Regions from separate parts of the Homo sapiens genome. Here region 2 is linked to region 1. Evidence: fine-mapped expression QTL. Tissue or cell type: blood mononuclear cells. Region 1 holds a variant in brackets; the other region holds the start of a gene. All regions are shown on one strand. Distances are between the middles of the regions.

Region 1 (2,647 bases):
TTACAGCACTCCAGGACAAACACAGACATAAAATAATACATAAAACAAGTAGCGGGAAACTGGAAGATGCCAGGGAGTCCTCTTATAAAAGCAGGGTTCACCAAAACCAGAAGGCCAACTGGCTCCAGGACAGCGAAAGGCACAGTGGCTCCTCTGCTCCTCTGCCTTCTGCCCCATTTGAAATGGGGGACTTACAAATCCAGACTTCAGGGCAGGCCTAGACTTGATGCAGCCACTGCAATCTTGGTCCATGGTGCAATTTGGCAGACAAGTTGGTGAAAGGTAAGTTGTCTCCAGAGATTTCAATCAGGGACGTGGCTTCCAGATGTTAAAAGATACCCAGCTAAGTCACAAGGAAGTGGATGTTTTCAAATGCTAAGTGACCACCAAACAAAACATTCTCCCTGGGCCTTCACCACTCAGAGAACACCAACATACAAAAACAAAAGTCTGTTCCCATTTCATCAATAATGGAGTTTTAAGGATTTTGTCATAGTGTAGAATATTAAGAATGGATGAATAAAAAGTCAAAAAAGGTGCAGAGGTCCTATAAATCAGGGTTTATTAGACTAGATATTAATAAATTGGAAGGGTTTAAAAAAAAAAAGGCTGTTGGCCCTACATATGACAGTTTCCCATTGTTTCTTAGCTTAGTATATTTATTTTCCAACACAATGTTAGCAATTCTTACAGCAGTTCTTGCATTTTTCCAATAACATTTTTATTAATCAAATGGTATATATTTTTCACTATAACCTATTTTCACTGATTAATACATTTATCAGTATTTTAATGTGGCCTAAAATATGCTAAATTCTGTCACAATAAATATGTTTTTCCCTCCCTGGGGAGAAACACAAGTAAAAAAAGGAAAATATTAAGATGCATTCCACTTTTTAGTTAAGGAAAAGTTCAGAAAACTCCCATCTTTTTAAAAAAGAATGAAAATATGATCCTAAGTAACTCAGGTTAGAAAAACAGTAACAGAGCCAGGCGCAATGGCTCACGCCTATAATCCCAGCACTTTGGGA[A/G]GCTGAGGCAGGAGGATCACTTGAGCCCAGGAGTCTGAGATCAGCCCAGGCAACATAGTGAGACCATGTCTCTATTAAAAAAAAAAAAAAATTAAAGAGAGAAAAAAACAGTAATAATAAAACAAGTGGGGAGGAGGACATTTAGAAGAAAAATCTAGATAAACCTCTGCACAAAAATAATTTTGGAAAAAAGTTAGAAGTCCTACCTGAGATTAATTCAGGCGTCACTGGCTAATGCTAAGGGAATTCTGATTGGAAGGCAGCAACTCAGGGGCCCAAGGACCACATTAACAGATGCAATTACCTGCCCTAGAGAAGGCGCTTCCTCACACTCCCACTTAGCTGCAATGCCAATACTGTCCTTTCAAGCTTCAACCCTGTGATTTTAAGATATCAAAACTTGTATCCTTCTTCAGCTCTATGTAATTTGTCAAAAATTTCAAGATGCAACTCTATAGCCAAAAAGAGAGCCTTTTACTTTTTCAAACAAAAATAAACAAGAGAAGTCACTGACTGCTAAAACTAGAAGGGACCCTCAAGATTGGTATCACAGGATCACACCTTCATCTGGCAGTAGGTTGAGGTCAGTAACTCAGCTCACATGACATTTAAAACCACACAACACTACCAGAGAGAGCTACAGGTTCAGATGCCAATGGTTTCAAAAAACCATGATTCAGGCCGGGTGCAGTGGTTCACGCCTGTAAACCCAGCACTTTGGGAGGCCGAGGCAGGTGGATCACAAGGTCAGGAGTTTGAGACCAGCCTGGCCAACATGGTGAAATCCTGTTTCTACTAAAAACACAAAAATTAGCCAGGCACGGTGGTGCGTGCCTGTAATCTCAGCTACTCGGGAGGCTGAGGCAGGACAATCGCTTGAATCTGGGAGGCGGAGGTTGCAATTAGCCAAGATCGCACCACAGCACTCCAGCCCGGGCGACAACAGCAACACTCCGTCTTGAAAAAAAAAAAAACAAAAAAACCACGATTCAAGAAAAAGGCAGATTCTCCTGTGTTCAGCAGCTACTTTAAAAAAAAAAAAAAAAAAAAAGGCACTTCTTGGCCAGGAGTGGTGGAGGACTGCTTGAGCCCAGGAGTTTGAGACCAGCCTGGGGAACATAGCCAGACCCTGTCTCTACAAAAATAAAATTAGCTGAGCAGTTCCAGCTCCTTGGGAGGCTGAGGTGGGAGAATCACTTGAGCCCGGGAAGTCAAGGCTGCAGTGAGCCGTGACCATGCCACTGCACTCCAGCCTGGGTGACAGAGCGAGACCCTGCCTGGAAAAAAAACAACAACAACAACAAAAAAGCACTTCCTAATGATTGGGGAAAATATTAAATATTAGGTCAGAGAGTTAAACACTCTTAGAAATTTTTAAGAATACATTTATTTCACTCAACACTGAATCTTAAAATTATTACTTCTTCAGACCAGGCACGGTGGCTCAGGCCTGTAATCCCAGCACTTTGGGAGGCGGAGGAGGGCGGATCACTTGAGCTTAGGAGTTGCAGACCAACCTGCACAGCATAGTCAAACCCCATCCCTACCAAAAAAAAAAAAAAAAAAGAAAATTATTACTTCCTCTCTCAGGCTTCAAAATTAAGGAGGAGGGAGGG
Region 2 (2,647 bases), 38 kb after region 1:
CCCGACTACTCGGGAGGCTGAGGCACGAGAATCGCTTGAACCCGGGAGGCGGAGGTTGCAGTGAGCGATGGTGCCACTGCACGCCTGGGCAACAGAATAAAACTCTGTCTCAAAAAAAAAAAAAAAAGGAAGAAGAGAATCTCTCTTAAAGACAGTGTTAGTATTAAAAGACACAAAGCCACATGGAGCACTTAACAGTGCTTGACACAAAACAAGTGCCCAACTAACAAAGAGCTGCTATTATCATTACTACTGTTAGAGACATGCCATCGGAGAAGCGGATGCCCGGCCTAGCATAACCTCCCTCAATGGGCCCCAGGATCCTCATCCCCAAAATGGGGCAGAGGTCAAGCTCTGCCCTGCAGCATCCGAGGGCAACTGTGAAGTAGGGACTGAACTAGCACTGTTGATACCATCCCGTTATACTGTCCTCCTGCTCATCATAATGTGGATTCCTGGAGAGCAAATCTTTGTTCCCGGGAAAACAGCCAGGGTTTAGCACGGTGCCCAACACCTAGTGGGCATTCAATAAACACACACTGAAGAAAGGAGGGAGTCCAAGAGCTGGCTTACTTTCTGCCATACATCGCGCTAAGAGTTTAATGTGGGTAGTATTACTGTCCCCGTTTTACAGATGAGGAAGCTGAGATCCACAGCGGTTAAAGCACCTGTCCAAGGTCACACCGCACGGAACCCAACCCAGGTCTGACTCCACCACCCGATCTCTCGGCCCTCAGGCAACACGGCCTCCCACAATGTGCGTCCCCAGAGCTCCCAGGACGGCCCACCTCGCCCACACCCTCCCAGGGCCCAACCACCCTGGGACCTCCAGTCGCTGCAGCGCAGGGACCACACCTCAGCGGCGGCCCAGAAACCCCCACCCCGCGTAGCAGCAGCCCACTTCCGGCCCGAGACCCCGCCCCCTGAGCAGAGCGCAGCGCGCGCCCCCAGGCCCAGCCCGCGCGCGCCGGGTGACGGCCCCGCCCTTCCCCCACCCGGCTCGAACAGCACCGCCGTGTGGAACGGCCCTGGCGCTGCCCGTAGGGCCTGCCCGCGCACGCCCGGCCTTGGCCCACGCGGCCGCCCCCCCAGCCGCACCCCCCGGGCCCGCTAGCCGGCTCACCGGCTCTCGGCAGAACCGCGTCCACTGCCCGCAACCGGCTCCGGTTCCGTCTTCGTCTCGTTCAAACCGCCAGACCCCGCCCGCCCGCCCGCGCGATGACCTCACACGCACCCCCTCGTTACGCGCCGACGTAAAGGCTCGCCATCCTCCGCCGGCTCCTTTTATAGAGAGGGTCTCAGCCGCGCGCCGGGGGCGGAGCTCGGCCCCTGATCCACAGAACGGTAGCCGAGGGGCGGGGCCCCGACCGCCGGGGCGACTGCGGCACGTGGTCGGTCGCAGCCAATGAGGTCCCGCCTCGGCCCGGTGTGACTCAGTTACAAAATCCCTATGGCAGTAACCAAAAAGAAAATTGCTTTTACAATGAATTTTTTTTTTTTTTTGCTTAGAGATGTATGGAGGTCTCGCTGTGTTGCCCAGGGTGGTCTCGAACTCTTGGCCTCAAGCGATCCTCCCGCCTTAGCCTCCCAAAGCGCTGGGATAACAGGCGTGAGCCACCGCTCCCAGGCTTACAATTAATTTCTGTAAGAATGGGTTATTGAATCATAAAGATACCTAATAGACACTTTGGGGAAACGCTTAGAAGTCAACTTTCTGGGCCGGGTGCAGTGGCTCACGCCTTTAATCCCAGCACTTTGGGAGGCCCAGGTGGGAGGATCACCTGAGGTCAGGAGTTTGAGACCAGCCTGGCCAACATAGTGAAACCCCATCTCTACTAAAAATACAAAAATTAGCCTGGCGTGGTGGTGGGCGCCTGTAATTCCAGCTACTTGGGAAGCTGAGGCAGGAGAATCACTTGAACCCAGGAGACGGAGGTGGCAGTGAGGCGAGACTGCACCACTGCACTCCAGTCTGGGCGACAGAGCAAGACTCTGTCTCAAAAAAAAAAAAAAAAAGTCACGTTCTGTGACGCCCCCGCCCCCCCATCTGCAATATCATGCGGCATATTTTCTTCTTAGTACCATAAGAAGGCATCTTGTGCCTTTACTGTCTGTCTCCTGTAAAGTCCACAGGAGCAAGGACCTCCTGAGTCCTGTTCCGGGTTGTTTCCCAATGGCTGTACATACATTCTCTCTTGCCCACTCCCTCTTTTTTTTTTTTTTTTTTTTAAGAGATGGGGTCTTGCCATGTTGCCCAGGCTGGGCTGGTCTCCTGGGCTCGAGAGATCCACCCGCATCGGCCTCCCAAAGTGCTGGGATTACAGGCGTGAGCCACCACACCTGGCCCTTACATTCTCAAGAGAGCCTTGGCTGAAGGAGGAACTGGGCTGGGCGTGGTGGCTCACACCTGTAATCCCAACACTTTGGGAGGCCAAGGCGGATGAATTACCTGAGGTCAGGAGTTGGAAACCAGCCTGTCCAACATGGCGAAACCCCATCTCTACTAAAAATGCAAAACTTAGCCGGGCATGGTGGTGGGCGCCTGTAATCCCAGCTACTTGGGAGGCTGAGGCAGGAGAATCACTTGAACCTGGGAGGCAGAGGTTGCAGTCAGACTTCGTCTAAAAAAGAAAAAAAGAGGAACTGC

The links. PIP is the estimated chance that this variant, and not a neighbour inherited with it, causes the effect.
Region 2: MAPRE1 starts here. The variant in region 1 is fine-mapped to the expression of MAPRE1 in blood mononuclear cells (TOPMed, PIP above 0.99). The same link has a PIP of 0.9 or more in T cells, esophagus muscle and tibial artery.

What each region holds. Positions count from the first base shown.
Region 1 is chr20:32,856,045-32,858,691 of GRCh38, reverse strand. It overlaps LOC119746555 (a long non-coding RNA gene), which reads right to left and starts at 2,060. Exons shown (of 1, transcript NR_171378.1): 1 at 1-2,060. The variant A/G (reference allele first, on the strand shown) is at 1,032.
Region 2 is chr20:32,818,505-32,821,151 of GRCh38, reverse strand. MAPRE1 (microtubule associated protein RP/EB family member 1) reads right to left here and starts at 1,198. Exons shown (of 7, transcript NM_012325.3): 1 at 1,124-1,198. RefSeq lists enhancers at 1-149, 150-819 and a silencer at 892-1,481.